Linked DNA regions of Homo sapiens: region 2 is linked to region 1. The links come from fine-mapping of genetic effects on gene expression. Tissue or cell type: whole blood. Region 1 holds a variant in brackets; the other region holds the start of a gene. All regions are shown on one strand. Distances are between the middles of the regions.

Region 1 (8,110 bases):
TAATTTTTGTATTTTTAGTAGAGACCGCGTTTCACCATGTTGGCCAGGCTGGTCTTGAACTCCTGACCTCATGATCCACCCACCTTGGCCTCACAAAGTGCTGGGATTACAGGCATGAACCACCATGCTCGGCTCCAGATATCTTTTTAGAAATACTCTGATCTGAAAAGGCACCTCTGTATGCTAGTGTGAGTTAATTGATCAGATACATTTCCTCATTGGCAATAGAGATAGAGGCAAAGGGGAGCTTTGAGTAACAGGACCTCGATCAAACCTCTGTGTGCCCACCTTGTGATTGTCTTCCAGTGTGTGCTGAGTTGTATGACAAATAATGAGACAATGGGAAAGCTACTCTAGAAGGCTCTGTTCTCTTTGTATGGGCAAATAAAGCAGAAACCTAACTCACAGGCTCCTTTCTCATGATCACTATTTGCACAACGCTCTGCATAGTGAGGGATGTTATGTCCTTTAATCCTGACTACAAAAGGCAAAGAATCTGTATTGTAAGGAAACAAGGGAGCTGGAGCATGTGCAAAGAATGTTCACTTCCGGCAATAAGTGGGTCTTAAGATTGTGTTTAATTCTGCTTGAAAGTATTGTGGGCATATAATTTTCATTTCTGAAATGTTGTCCTCATTTCTCACCAATCTTTAATGCGCAGAGGCTAATGATTTTAAATTTCACCGTTCTTGCCCTTGAGCTTGTCAGTGAAATAACCTACCATGAAACTTGTCCATGTTCTGCTGCCTGAAGAATCCTTTAGCAAAGTACATCCTAATACTCTAATTGATCGATTGTTTAAATTTTTGCTTTAATACATAGGCATATTTAACTCAGCAAGGAAACAAGAAGGATAGGTAATTGGATGTCTTTTTCTTTTTTAATGTAAACTTTCTTTCTCCCAGGAGCACACACAACCAGGAAATTCTGAAGGTGAGCAATGAATGAGCCAGGGCTTGTTTTTCATAAATGTTTATAAAATCTATAGTGATATCACCTCTTTCAATCCTGATTTTGGTAATTTGTATTTTCTTTGTTTTCTCAATCAGTGTGGATAGGTATTGTGTCAACATGCTAAAGCAAAAACTACCTTTCTCAGAATTCCCTTCTCTGTTTGGTTCTGAGTCAGGGTTGTCCCCAAGAGAAATTTATGTGAGATGTGCAAGACAGTGTGAAAGGAAAATATCTTGGGGCCCCCAAATCACTAAGTTGAAGGGAAAAATCAAGCTGAGAACTGCTTAGGGCAATCCTGCCTCCCATTCTATTCAAAGTCACCCCTCTGCTCACTGAGATAAATATGTATCTGATTGCCTCCTTTGGAGAGGCTAATCAGAAACTCAAAAGATTGCAACCATTTCTTTCTTATTGACCTATGGCCTAGAAACCCCCTCTCCACTTGGACTTGTCCCACCTTTCCAGACAGAACCAATGTTCATCTTACATATGTTGATTGATGTCTCATGTCTCCCTAAAATGTATAAAACCAAACTGTGCTCTGACCACCTTGGGCACATGTTGTCAGGACCTCCTGAGGCTGTGTCATGGGCATGTGTCCTCAACCTTGGCAAAATAAACTTTCAAAATTAACTGAGACCTCTTTCAGATATTTGGGGTTCACAGTAGAATAAAGTGGCAGCCAGTGGATGTATGGGAAGGCGTGGCTGAGCTCCTGCACATTGCTGGTTCTTTGGTGGTTCATCATATATGTGGGGGCAAGAGCCAGGTCTACAGCTCCCCTCATTTCTGGGCTTCTGCCTCCAGCTTTTCTCAACCCTGGTTGAGCCACCTATGCAGCTGTACAACAAGAGCACCAGCAGCTCACTTGAGACATTGAAGTTGGACGCTCAGAGGCAGTGAAAGGCCTATGCACGTTCCAGCTTGTGCCCCTGAATCCTAGTGGGTCCTCCGAGGCTCCAGTTTATCCTGGATTTCTCCCACTTCTAGTCCAGGTTTTGTTCCTGACTGGTGGCTCTATAGGCTTTGGACACCAAAGCACTTGTTTCACATAGACTGTTTAACCAGTTACCCCTGTCAACGTAGGAGTCAAATGCTATAAACTATTTAAGGAGGTTTATTCTGAGCCAAATATGAGTGACCAAGGCTTGTGACACAGCCCCAGGAGGTCCTGAAAACATGTCCCCAAAGTGGTTGTTTTACAGTTTGATTTTAAACATTTTAGAGGGACAGAAGTTACAGACAGACATCAATCAATACATATAAGGTGTTCATTAGTTTGGAAAGGCAGGCAACTCAAAGTGGGAGGGCTTTCGGGTCATAGGTGGATTCAAAGATTTTCTGATTGGCAATTGGTTATCTGAAGACCTGGAATCAATAGAAAGGAGTGTTTGGGTTAAGATAAAGGACTGTGGAAAACAGGGTTCTTATGTAGATGAAGTCTCCTAGGTGGCCGCCCTTAGAGGCAATAGATGGCAAGTGTTTTCTATTCAGACCCTCAAAAGGTGCTAGACTCTCAGCCAACCTCTTCAGGATCAGAAAAAGACCTGGAAAGAACAGGGGATTCTCTATAGAATGTAAATTTCCCCCACAAGAGACAGCTTTGCAAGACCATTTCAAAATATATCAAATAAGTATATTTTGGGACAAAAGACTGATTTCTTTCAGGGCCTGCTACTTGTCATGCAATACTATACTAGAGTCAGGTTGGAATTTGGTATCTTATTGCTACAAACAGTTTGTTCTCTCAGTCTTAGAATCTCTGTTTTAATGTTAATGCTGATCAGTTGTGCCTGAATTCCACAGGGAAGAGGTTACAATGAGGCATGTCTGACCCCCACTCCTTTCCATCCTTGCATTAAATAGTTTTTCGGGTTTGCTTTGGAATGCCCTTGGCCAAGAGGAACATCCATCAGTTGGCTGAGAGGCTTAGAGTTTTATTTCTGGTTTACAGCACAATTGCATGAGGTCAGATTCCTACCATATTCTGTATCACTCATATTGGCTCAGATTCTCTGATCAACCCTCAGGTGAAGTCTTGTTGTGGGGTTATCAATGTTACCATTTTATTCACAAAAGTAACTATTGTCCTTGCTAATTTTCTCTTATTTATCTGTTTTCTACTTCTTTGATTTCTGCTGATCTTTCTTTCTTCCCTTAAACTTATTTTGAGTTTAATTCACCCATGTTTTCTTAGTTTCATAATGTGAAAACATATTTTAAAAGAAGAAATATTTCAAGTCAGTGATTTCAGATTTAAATCTGTAACTGCCCGATGGGTTCTTCTTGCACAAACAAAATCAGTTCACGGAGACTCAAGGCATTGCCATAAAAAAAGAGTTTAATTAACATGAGACTAGCCACACCAGGTGAGAGACGAAGTTATTACTCAAATCAATCTCACTGAAGGCTTGGAGGTTAGGGGTTCTTCAAAGATAGTTTGGTGGGCAGGGGGCTAGGCTATAGGTGCTGCTAATTGGTTGGGGATGCAATGATGGTGGTATGAAATATGGTCCTCATGAGCTGAGTTGGCTTCTAGGTGGGGCCACAGAACTGGTTAAGTCACAGGTCCAAATGGGGCCATCTGGTTGTTAGAAGTGCAAAACCCTGAAAAGACACTTCAAAAAGCCAAACTTGGGTTCTACAATAGTAATGTTATCTGCAGGAGTAATTGGGGAAGTTGCAAATCTTGTGACCTCCGGGAAAATGGCTGTAATTGTTTACCTACTTTACATT[G/T]TAGCAGAATTCCAGCCCCTCTCATTCTCCTAACCTGATGACCTTTCATTAGTTTTACAAGGTCAGTTTAGTTTTAGGGAAGGGCTATTGTTATTTAAAATATAAACCAAATTTCTCCCAAAGTTAGCTTGGCCCATGCCCAGGAATTAGCAAAAACAGCTAGCCTGTGAGGTTAGAAGTGAGATGGAATCAGCCATGTCAGATTTTTCTTTCTATCATAATTTTGCAAAGGTGGTTTCGAAGCTATACATCTCTCTTAAGTCAGTGCTTTAGCAGAATCTCTGAATTTTTGATATGTGTTTTAAAATCACTTTTCTGTATAAAATATTTTCTTAATGCTTATAATTTCCTCTTTGACCTGTGCATTTTTTACAAGGGGGTAGTTTAATTTTTAAGCCTTTGGAGACTTCCTAGATACTTTATTGTTATTGATTTCTAATTTAATTTTATGGTTCTAAATAAGCTTTTAAAGATTTCAATATTTTGAAATTATTTTTATTTTTATTTTTTTATTTTTTTAGTATTTATTGATCATTCTTGGGTGTTTCTCAGAGAGGGGGATTTGGCAGGGTCATAGGACAATAGTGGAGGGAAGGTCAGCAGATAAACATGTGAACAAAGGTCTCTGGTTTTCCTAGGCAGAGGGCCCTGCTGCCTTCCGCAGTGTTTGTGTCCCTGGGTCCTTGAGATTAGGGAGTGGTGATGACTCTTAACGAGCAAGCTGCCTTCAAGCATCTGTTTAACAAAGCACATCTTGCACCGCCCTTAATCCATTTAACCCTTAGTGGACACAGCACATGTTTCAGAGAGCACGGGGTTGGGGGTAAGGTTATAGATTAACAGCATCCCAAGGCAGAAGAATTTTTCTTAGTACAGAACAAAATGGAGTCTCCTATGTCTACTTCTTTCTACACAGACATAGTAACAATCCTGATCTCTCTTTCTTTTCCCCACATTTCCCCCTTTTCTATTCGACAAAACCACCATCGTCATGTCATCATGGCCCGTTCTCAATGAGCTATTGGGTACACCTCCCAGACGGGGTGGCCGGGCAGAGGCGCCCCCCAACCTCCCAGACGGGGCGGCTGGCCGGGCGGGGGCTGCCCCCCCCACCTCCCGGACGGGGCGGCTGCCGGGCGGAGGGGCTCCTCACTTCTCAGACGGGGCGGCTGGTCACAGACGCTCCTCACCTCCCAGACGGCGTGGCGGCGGGGCAGAGACACTCCTCAGTTCTCAGACGGGGTCGCGGCTGGACAGAGGCGCTCTTCACATCTCAGACGGGGCGGCGGGGCAGAGGCGCTCCCCACATCCCAGACGATGGGCTGCCGGGCAGAGACGCTCCTCACTTCCTAGACGGGATGACGGCCAGGAAGAGGCGCTCCTCACTTCCCAGACTGGGCGGCCGGGCAGAGGGGCTCCTCACATCCCAGACAATGGGCAGCCAGGCAGAGACGCTCCTCACTTCCTAGATGGGGTGGTGGCCGGGCAGAGGCTGCCATCTCGGCGCTTTGGGAGGCCAAGGCAGGCGGCTGGGAGGTGGAGGTTGTAGCGAGCCGAGATCACGCCACTGCACTCCAGCCTGGGCACCACTGAGCACTGAGTGAGTGAGACTCCGTCTGCAATCCCAGCACCTCAGGAGGCCAAGGCTGGCAGATCACTCGCGGTCAGGAGCTGGAGACCAGCCGGGCCAGCACTGCGAAACCCCGTCTCCACCAAAAAAATACGAAAACCAGTCAGGCGTGGCGGTGCGCGCTTGCAATCCCAGGCACTCGGCAGGCTGAGGCAGGAGAATCAGGCAGGGGGGGTTGCAGTGAGTCCAGATGGCGGCAGTACAGTCCAGCCTCGGCTGGGCATCAGAGGGAAACCATGCAAAGAGGGGGAGGGGGAGAGGGAGCCAATATTTTGAAATTTATTGAGACATTTTAGAACCTAGTATATAGCCTCTTGGTGAATGTTCTGTGTGTTCTTAAAAAGTGAATGTGTATTCTACCACTGTTCAGTAAATGCCAATTGGGTCAAGTTTGTTGATAGTCAAATCTATATCCTTACCCATCTTTTTGTCCCATTTTTTCTGTCAGTTATTGAACAAGAGGTGTTAAAATCTCCAATTACTTCTATTTCTCTAACACTGCCATTTTTTTCTTTGTGGATTTTGAATTTCTCTATATATTTTGTATATTTTGAAGGTCACATACATCTTTTGTCGTCATGTATTCTGATGAATTGACCCTTTTGTCATTATTAAATGTGCTTTATCTCTATTCATAGTCCTTGCCTTGAAATTTATTTTGACTGGTATTAATATAGCCACACCACATCGTGTTTATTAAGCTCACATTTTGCATGGTATATGTTTTTCTATACTTTTCCTTTCAGTCTATATCTTTATATTTAAAGTGCATTTGTCTTAGACATCCTTTTTTTTGGCCACAGGATAAGAAGAAAACCATAAAAATTACTAGATGCCCTATGATGAAAGAAAAGGTTTCTAAATGGCGTTATATCTGGATAACTATAAACCACATTCCATGACTTTAGGCAAGTGATTGATTAAAAATATAATTTTCCTGTAATTTGTCAGTTGCTTAGCTCACACAGATCCTTTTGACAGCTGTTTCTTAAACAAGAAAAATATGAGACTGTCAGAGACAGTTTAGGTTGCTGGTGTTACATCTTGCAATAAAAACATCATTTGAATGAAATGAGATTATAAGAGTTTGCTGCTAACTCTGAACAAACACCATCTTCTTGCAGCATAGCAGTGGATCTGGCAATGGCAGTTTGATGACTCTAATCAAAGCACTTATCATATGAATTGAAGTGAAAAGAACGAGAAAAGAGAACAAAGAAATTATTTTACTCTAAACAACAGGTGCCTTGAAATTAAACCATCTTTAGTGGTTAAATGACCTTATACTCACTCTCTTTTCCTATCTATCCATCGCCAACTCATATATTCTAATCTTTCTTTCAAATTGCTAGACTGAATTAAAAATAATTGTTTTCTATACAGGGTCAGGAAAATATGAAAATATAGCCATGTTATAATTATTATAATCCATATTTATCATTATCTATATTTTACACCTAACATTTACACTTGTTTTGCACAGGAATATTTGGACCAATTTCTAGAAATATTTGGACCAAATCTAGAAATGTTTTTGAAAGACTTATTTCTTACTTTTATGCTAAAGTCTCATAAACAATATTTAAAAGCAGCTAGCAAATATGTGCTGAGTGAGACCAGGAACACTTTGTAATATTCTTGCTGAAAGTGCAAAACCTGATTCTGATCCTAAAGGAATCCAGATAAACTATACTAAAGAACATTCTACAAAATAATGGGTTGCATTCTTTAAAAATATCAGAGTCAAGCAGCACACCAAGCTGAGGAACTGTTCTAGATTAAAGGAGATTAAGGAGACGTGACAACTAAATCTAATGCATTATCCTGGACTGGACTCTGAACCAATGGGGGAAAGTAGCTGAAAAGGACATTACTGGGACAACTGATGAAATCTGAATATGGACTATCATTGGGAAATGGTATTATATCACTGTTAAAATTCCTAATTTTGAACATTGGATTGTGACTAAATAAGAGAATGTCTTTGTTCTAAGGAAGCACACACACATCAGTACTTGGAGTATATGGACCTGATGTCTGCAACTTACTCCCAAATGGTTTGAGGGGAAAAATCCTCTTTTTCTCTCTCTCTATCCCTAGCCTATAGACAGATGGTGAGTCTGGACCATGTACATGTGAGTTCCTTGTACTATTCTTACAATTTTTCTCTAAATTTGAAATCCTATCAAAATATACAGTTACCAAAACAAACAGACTGCTAACAAATTGTCTTTCCCATTAACCTATATGTCTATTAGAGATTAGGAAATCCTTCATTTGCTTTAGCAAAAAGCATCACAGCACAGACTTTTGAGCCAAAGACTGATTTGAATTAAGACTCCTTGTGTGAACATGGATAAGTTACTTAACTTCTCTGACCTTCAGTTTTCTCCTTTATAACACAGGGATAACGAGTCCTATCAAAAAGTTGAAAGGATTAAATAAAATTATATACATAAATAGTTTCATTTGGTGTTGGACACATAGTAAAACCTAATAAATGTAGCTCCTGTTGTTTAAATTGATTAAGAGGTGTCCAATAGTATCTAGTATTGTGCTATCCAATAGAAACAGAATGTAAGTCACACATGCAATTTAAAATGTAAATTTTAAAATTTAAAAAGTAAAAAGCAAGTGAAATTAAATGATTTAGTTTTATTTTATCCAAAATAGCAAAAATATATTTCAAAATGTAATCATTATAAAACTTACTGAGATATTTTACATTTTTTTAATTTACTAAACAAACACTCGAGATGCGGTGTGTATATTATAGCACCTCTCAATGTG
Region 2 (8,110 bases), 190 kb after region 1:
TTACTAGATCAAGATTAGCAACTGTCGTCATCCCTCAAAAAAAGGAGGAGGGAGAGGGTCAGGAAAAATAACTAATGGGTACTAGGCTTAATACCTGGGTGATGAAACAACCTGTCCAACAAACCTCCACGACACAAGTTTACCTATATAACAAACCTGCACGTGTAGCCTGAACTTAAAATAAAAGTTTAAAATAAAAAAGAATAAAAGACTGCTTCAAAACAACAAATAAACAAAAGTAAGTCTGGGTCAAGGATGAGTCAGTATTGATAATGGGAAAGGGAAGAAGTGTTTAAGCCCAGCTTAGAGGGTTATCGGTGTGAGAGTCCTAGACAGGGAAAGCCAGGCCATGCCCAGACTACACGTCTCTATTATTCTTCCCCATGGTGGACTTATTTATATGAATGTCTTGCCACTGAGTTACAATCTCCTCTCCAACCCCAACCTCCAGGTCCTGTTTCTATTCAACTATGTAATGTTTGATGAATTGTTGGCAGCAGAAACAGTGCAACATGTGTATGCAAAGACTAGGAAATGAAGAACTTCCATTTCTGGCCATGACAGAGTAGCTGGAAGCTGATATATTTTCCCATCATAAATTACTAGAAAACTAAATAGAATATATAAAACTGCTTTCAGGCATTGGACAACAGGTAGCATTAAGAACATAGTCCCTGAGAGAAGATAAATAACAAGGTGAGCCCCACAACCACTCCAGATTTCTGCCTGGAGGCACCTTCCAGACCTCAGTGCCCAAAGCGATGCCAAGGAGAACACAGCAGTCTTTGTGAATTGACAAGACAGGGATCATAGTTTAGAGAGACTGAGGCAGCTTTGTGAGGTAGTATACTGGAGAGGAAAAAAACGTACAAAGAAAAAGCTCCAGAAATCTGCATGGGTGTCTCTATGGGTCTCTGACTGAAAACTGAGCTGTGTATTTTCAGAGTAAAACTCCATAGAACTGGTCAAAGAACTGCTACCTGTAAGCTGTGAGCTGAGCAATTCCCAGAGCTCACGCAGGGATGCAAGATAGTTTAGCTCCAACCAGCCAGAGTAGAGAGACCTGGTTAAAATCCCAGAGCATTTAGTAGAGACTTCATGAGGGCCATGCCATTGTACTAGCCCTACAGACTACTTTAGGACCACTCTAATAAAGCTTAAAAACAAACCTCAAAAACAAAACAAAACAAAAACAATTTGATGCTCAAATAACAACTTTCTGCCAGAGCAAAGTCTAACTCTCTTTAAAGGATGACAACAAAATCCAAATACTCAACAAAGTAAAATTTACAGTGTTCAGCACCCAGATAAAAATTACTGTACAGGCCAAGAAACAAGAAATGATAGTCTATACAACCAGGAGAAAAATTAGGCTATAGAAACAGAGACTCAAAACCAAAATCCTTAGGTATATTTTTGTCTCTTTTTCAAATTCTTCTTCTCAATTAGCAATTGATTTTACCCCTGTCAAACTCTATAAATATGAAGTCACTCATGTTTATTTCTCACTTAATGTGCTTAACAGCTAATTAACAAGATGTTTACAGAAAGTCCTTAGAGACCAGTAGACGGTCTCTGCCTTGGAAAAACCAAAGGCTGGGCTTGCTTGGATGAGAGGAGAAAAGCTTCTCACCCATGACACATGAAAATAACTAATACTTGATGAATTCCTCCCAGGGACTTAAGGTGCCCATCTCCTTTCCAGCCCGTATGAACTTTTTGAAAGTGTATCTCATCCTCACTTCCCCAACCCACACCTATAGTGATTTCAAAGTAAAAAAGTAAGAAAACCAAATAGCAAATATTGACAAGCTCCCAGAAGAAAGTAGAGAAATGCAAAATTGAGACTCTTACTTGGATCATGCCTTGGTTTTCTCTAGTATGCCTGGGGAGTTATGCCAAATTATTTCCTTGGCTTTAATAAGCACATTAAAAAGTGACCCAACATTCTATAACTATGATTTTATAAATAGCTACCTAGGACAACCTGAAGAAAGTGGCCGTCACCATGTCCATAGAATATATTGCCCCAAGAACAGGTGGAAGGAGAAAATGTTTTCCATCAGAACCTTTAAACAGTAGCTTAGATTTTGCTTAGCTTCCTAATAAATGTGATTAATGCAAATGTAAGCCTTTATTTTAAATGTAATCATCTCTGCCCCTGCACACAAGGCTCTTTACATGGAGAGTTAGGTGCCAAAGCAACTCTAACCATAAGAAGGAAGCTTGTTCATTCTCAGAATATGCTGAAGCTCACTGAATTGCAGAACTATACAATAGCTCCAAATGTTATTATGCCCATATGTCCAGGAGTTTAAGTGGCTTCTGCAGTGCCTCTTACTCATGTCATTGTGTGGGTGGCAGTGTTCTGGCCAACAATGACCATGGGATTGAGCATCTTGTATAATCATCTTACTAGGTTCTGAGAGTTATCCAGAACTGACAGCACAGGGCTGCTTACAGATGCTAATTAGAAGGGCAGCTCAAGTTATTTCCTAGATAATGAGGGGAAGTGTTTGTGATTTAACTTCTACCTACTATTGTTCCCTGTGGAGTTTTTGGAGGGAAGTAATTGCCTCATTGCTGCAAAGTGTTAACTTGGTTTGTGCTTTGTTCTTGCTGCCATAGCTTTTTCCTCCTCTGAACTCTGCATGAGTCTAAGGGTTATTTGTTCCCAGTGGCTTCAGATTCTTCCAGGTATTCTATTAAGATGACTGCTTAATTTCCAAGAGTCGAATGTGAAACATAGAATCTCAGTAGTTAGTCTAACATTTTCCTCAATGTTTAAATTCCCTTGTCAACGTACCCTATATGTGTTTGGTCTCTGCTGGAAAGTCTCCAGACAAGAAACTCACTACTCACTGGCAAGCCCATTTCTCTATTAAGAAAGTTCTTAAAACTGAACCAAAGTCTCTTTCCTACTCATTGGTTCTAATCCTTCCTCTGCCATGCAAGAAATAAGCCTACTCAGTTTCGTATATCATAGCTCTTGATGTGTTATACTCTGCTCAAACCCAGCAGCCACTCCCAACGACCTGTCAAATCCCGAGTGTCCTTTTCTCTAGCCAACGATGCTGCAATAGAATTCTGACTCTCTGGGTTTCTTTTTCTTTTTTGCTCTCATTATTTCTCTGATTAAGAGAAATTTTCCTCCATTCTTCCTTCCTTCCTCTTATTTTCTTCTTTCCTTCCTCCCGCCTCCCTTTCCCTATCTCTCTCTTCCTGTTACAAAACATATACAATTTAAAAACATTGTTCAGAAACACCATCACATGCCTCCACAAGTCTCTGCAGTCTCTTTGGTAGTACTAGACCCAGATCTGGTCCTCATAAGCATTGCTTTCTTGCTCCATAAAAAGAAAATCTCAGGTCCTATTTGTCTGTGAAATCATGGTAAAAAGTTATCTTTGGGGTCTTATTTTTCCCAGAATGCCAATACTGGTCTACTGAACCTAGACCTCATCTTTCCATTTCGTGACACAACTGCTTTCTTCTGAGCACAAAATGGAGCTGAGAGTCAAGACAATTACGCGATTACATTCAGATGACAAACTTTTTGGTCTTAGCATTTGATAGAAGAAAAAATATTTTATTAACATAAAACTTGCTGATGGGTATCCAAAGCCTCCACTTCATCACACACAGTGCAGACATGGCCTTTGAGTGCACACCAAGCTTAGTAACCTCCTTGCTCACTAAACTGTGGTGCTTCTCTTTTCACAAACATAAGCTGGGATCTTAGCAATTCCCCATCTGTCCACAGGTGAATATGTTATTTGAGAGAGGAGGCAGCTGCTACAACTCTTCATGGAAAACCAACATTGTAATTGCAAAAATAATTTGCAAATGATATTTCATGTGTTGCATTATTGCTTGTGATACTGATGGTTTATTAACCTACTTTCTTCTTATTTCTATGGGAAAACACAAAGACCTCATTTTTCCCTCAGATCACGTCAAAGTTAGGATGGATTTAAATGTACATTTATTTATTTATATACAGATATTCAGATAAGTTGGACAGCCACATCCCTACATTTTCTAAAATGACATAATGGGCATCAATAACAGGGTAAAATTGTGGCTCTGAGCCATCAGACAGAAACTGACGTTGCAGCCCAGCTGTGTGTACACAAACACTCAGGCTGATGAAGGAAGGCCACGGAATTCAAACCAGCACATCTTGCTGCTTTGCATTCAGCCTGCATCACCCGGGACAGAAAAACAGTGTGCTAATGAGAGAAAAAGTTGAACAACATAGAGTTCCTCTTTACAGGTTCCTAACATTATCTGGACAAACTGAGTGTTAGAGCTGGCCCGAGGGCTGATGGTGAGCAAGGGAACCGTCCAGGAGCAAATGAAACTGTCACGAAGGAAATGCCAGGCTCAGATAGACCCCACTCAGGAGGAAGGAAACCAGTGAGAAGGGAGGAAGGGGACCCCATCTCTGTTTCAGGACTTGGACTCATGGTTACTGTCCCTTGCTAAGAGCAATGTCCATTCTGTTCAGTCACGTGGGATGCAAACTCTAAACAAACCTTGATGAAGAGGAAAAGAGAATGCATTGGCTCAAGTACCTGAAAAGCCCAGGGCAGGGCTGGTTTCGGGCTTGGCTGGATTCAGAACCCAAGTGATTTCAGGAGTTCACTCCCTCCATGTTTTGCCTCTGATTCCTCTGCCTGGGATCCACCCAGAAGCACCTTCTGCAGTAAGATTGCTGGAGCTGTCCAGGTTCCCCATTCCATCCTCACAGCAACTCTAGCCAAAAGAGAGTTTCTCTTTTTCAGTGGTTTCCATTGAAACCATAGAACTGAGTCTCAGTAGCTCTGATTGGTCAGCTGTGGGCCACATGTTCATCCCTTAACCAATCACTATGGTCAGAGAGATATGGTATTCTCATTGGCCAGGCAGGGTCACATGCTCATCTCTGAAGCTGAGGTGGGGTCAGCCCCACATTGATCACTTGAACAGGGGAAGACTGAATCGTTATCAAAGAAGAGTTGAATTCTATCAAGGGGCCAGGAGTGTAGGACAGCAAACAAAAACAGGTAACCACCTCAGGTTAAAAAACTGCCTGAAGGGAGGGGTCACGGTTTACAGATGGCAAGGAAATCCTAGATACAATGCTAAATAGTGGCTTCATTAGTCATCATCCCACTTGTATCCATGCAGGCTAACAGATTCTGTCATGGATTAGGGCTCTGCTCTTACCAGCCATCATTCTGACCATGCCCACTGTTGAGGACTATGGCTCCCAAGTTGGTCTTGCCATGAGATTTTAAAAGCATGAAATTATCAAGGACAATTAGAATGAATTTGTCTTCATCATCAGCCAGTCAGAAGTTTTGAGAACTAATAATGCTTAAAATCTATAGTGATCGCCTTTAATTATTCTTTCAGCCTGTAAGTTTTCACGTTTTCTTGGCTGACTTTTAATAATGAAACCTGCTGACTTTTAATAGTGAAACCACTGTTCTGACTCATTATTTATATCAGGTGTGTTTCCAATGTGAACTTATAAAGTGGTAGACATTTCTTGGTTATTTTATGTTTTGTTAAAAGTATCAGGGATCATTATGTCTAAGTTTGTTAATTACGTTGATACTTCTCCCAAGGGTTCCATTACTCTCAATGTCAGACAACTGGGAGAAGTTGTTCTGAAAGTCATAGACAGCAGACAAGAGCCTTTTAACTGATGTATTCATTTCTTTAAGAGGCCATGAACTGGCAGTGTCTTCTCTCTGGAATCTCTGTTAGTCATTCCTACTGACTCATAGCAATTCGCTCTCTGAGCAGAAGTTCCCATGAGAGAAGACCCCACTAGATGGTGATGTCAACTGATGGAAGAATTTTGGATGATGTTTACAAAGCAAGGAGGTCTTGTGAGTCTCACCAGCAGGCCAGTGTCAAGTGGAAGAGGCCAGGCCTGGCTGTTGGCCATAGGCTTGGCTGGAATTGGCAAAGGTGCCATTTTAACTTCCACACCCTGCTCATGGCTACCCACTCTACTCCTAACCAAGCTATTTATACCACAAATGCCTGACTACAGATATGGGGACATAAGTGAATGAGAGAGAAAAAGAACGAGAATGGGAAGCATTTTCCCACTTGTGCCATTACAACTGGTCAGGTCCCCAAGCATTCACTTGTTGTCTTCTCTGAGTCTGACAGCCACTCTATGAGTTAGATAGGGCAGGTATTGCTGCCATTTTACAGATGAGGCTTGTCCAGGATCACACAGCCATCTTGGATCCACTACCCAGTAGAGCCTGTGGAATCCATCTCAAAGGGATTAAAAGGATTGAAAATCTGCCCTGCAGATACTGATCAGTCAAGACTTTCTGCATGTTCAGGACAGCTACTGTTCTTTCCTCTCACTATTTCAAATAGCTCAGTCTCAAACTCTAGGCTGATTTGAAGCCCTTGCCTCTTCTCTCTCCCAAAGAGTCAAAAGATATAGTAGCCAGGGAGCCCTTGAACATGCTCCTCCCAACAGCAGCCCGGAGTTCATGCAAGTGAAAGGCTTTGTGAAGACATCAGCCACCCTCTAGCAGATTATTTTATAAATCAGATAAGCCAATTTTTTTGTTTCAATGTCTTCACTTTTTTCTTCTCTTGTTTATTTGTCCAGTTAGTCACTCTCTCGGAGGTAAATTGCATTCCCTCCTGGGGCCACTAGTGTCCCAAAGGAAGAAGAGTTTGTGAACTGTGCTAATAATGCTACGGTATACCTAACCCAAACCCTGCCCTACGTGCTCTTTGCCACATGACTCAGATCATTGGTTGGTCTTCTGTGAGCCCTAGATCTTTCTTTTTAAAGTGTTAAGCCACTGTATTTTCAGTCCAATTTCTAATCATGGCTTTTACCCATTGTTAGTCAAAAGTAGAGAAGAGTATAAGGCCTTATGAGAAACCCGTGTCCATGGTGTTTAGAGAAGTATAGAACTTCAGAAGTCATCCAGTTCAAAGCTTTACGGTGGGTAATCACTAACAATTTCCTTCTCCAAGATTAGTCAGTAAGTAATAGTGAAAATAAGAGCCAGCTTCTCAGGTACTTGCCAGGGGCCAAGCACTTTTTCTAGATATTTTAAATGAATTGATTCATTTCATTTTCATAGTAACTTCCTCATTATCACCATGTTACAGATGAACAAACTGAAGGTAAGAGAATCTAGGTAACTCACCCAAAGCCACATAGTACAGCTGGGATGTAAATCTGTGGGTATGAACCTGTGTTTGAGCTATGATTTGCATAATTCTGGAGCTATTACTCTCACCCACTCAGCTATACTTTTTCAACCAAAAGAAGAGATTAAGCTTATGTATTTCTGTGTGTGTGTGTGTGTGTGTGTGTGTGTGTGTGTGTGTGTGTATAAAAGCATGTATAATAGGCCCTCCCTGCCTCCTTGCCCAGCTGAGGGCCTGGGGGAGGGAGAGACCCAGAGCACAGGACAGCAAAGCTTCTCATTCTTTTTGATTCTCTTTCAGCAGCAAAGATAGAACCTGAATTAATATCTCAATAAATGATCCTTCCCTCCATGGACCAGCCAACGAGCACTCAGCGCTATTCACTCATCTTTTAGCTGGTGTAGGGGACAAGGAGATATGAGTGTGAAGATAATTGTAAAAATTTCAAAGGTTTTTGTTTCTTACTGAAATGACAAAGCTTGAGAGGTTCCTCCCTCCAGTCTCAGGATAATGAGACAGCATTTGCACACTTAAAGAGATTTTTCTCTCTTCTGAATGCTATTGTGTTCCACAAAAAAGCTCTGCTCTCAGTGTAGGGGAGGCTGATGAAGTTTTACTGTAGCCAAACAGGCAGCCTGATAATATGACAGGACGACAGAGAGAGACAACAGTGACAGACAAACAGAGAGGCAGAGAGGTGCTGGTAGAAGAATGAGCAGAGAAGTCAGAAACACACTGTGATGTATAGAGACAGAGAAAAGACACCCCAAGGACATAGAGACCAAGGCAAAACCACAAAAGAGAACATAGCCAGAGTTAGAATGCACCAGTGCCCAGCTGTACATTAAATATGCTATCATTCCCCAAACTTAACTCATTTCAAATTAAAGAATAGCTATACTACTTAGGCCCCTTGGGGAAA

Evidence for each region. PIP is the estimated chance that this variant, and not a neighbour inherited with it, causes the effect. A credible set is the group of variants that fine-mapping cannot tell apart.
Region 2: it holds the start of LINC02930, and the variant in region 1 is the best candidate, but not a certain one, in a credible set for the expression of LINC02930 in whole blood (TOPMed, PIP 0.77).

What each region holds. Positions count from the first base shown.
Region 1 is chr10:120,795,418-120,803,527 of GRCh38, reverse strand. The region is part of intron 2 of LINC02930 (long intergenic non-protein coding RNA 2930); the gene reads right to left. The region is part of intron 1 of WDR11-DT (WDR11 divergent transcript); the gene reads left to right. Among named protein-coding and RNA genes, the nearest start is that of WDR11-DT, 52 kb to the left of the region's middle. RefSeq lists an enhancer at 4,133-4,801. The variant G/T (reference allele first, on the strand shown) is at 3,691.
Region 2 is chr10:120,605,241-120,613,350 of GRCh38, reverse strand. It overlaps LINC02930 (long intergenic non-protein coding RNA 2930), which reads right to left and starts at 4,769. Exons shown (of 5, transcript XR_002957103.2): 1 at 4,578-4,769.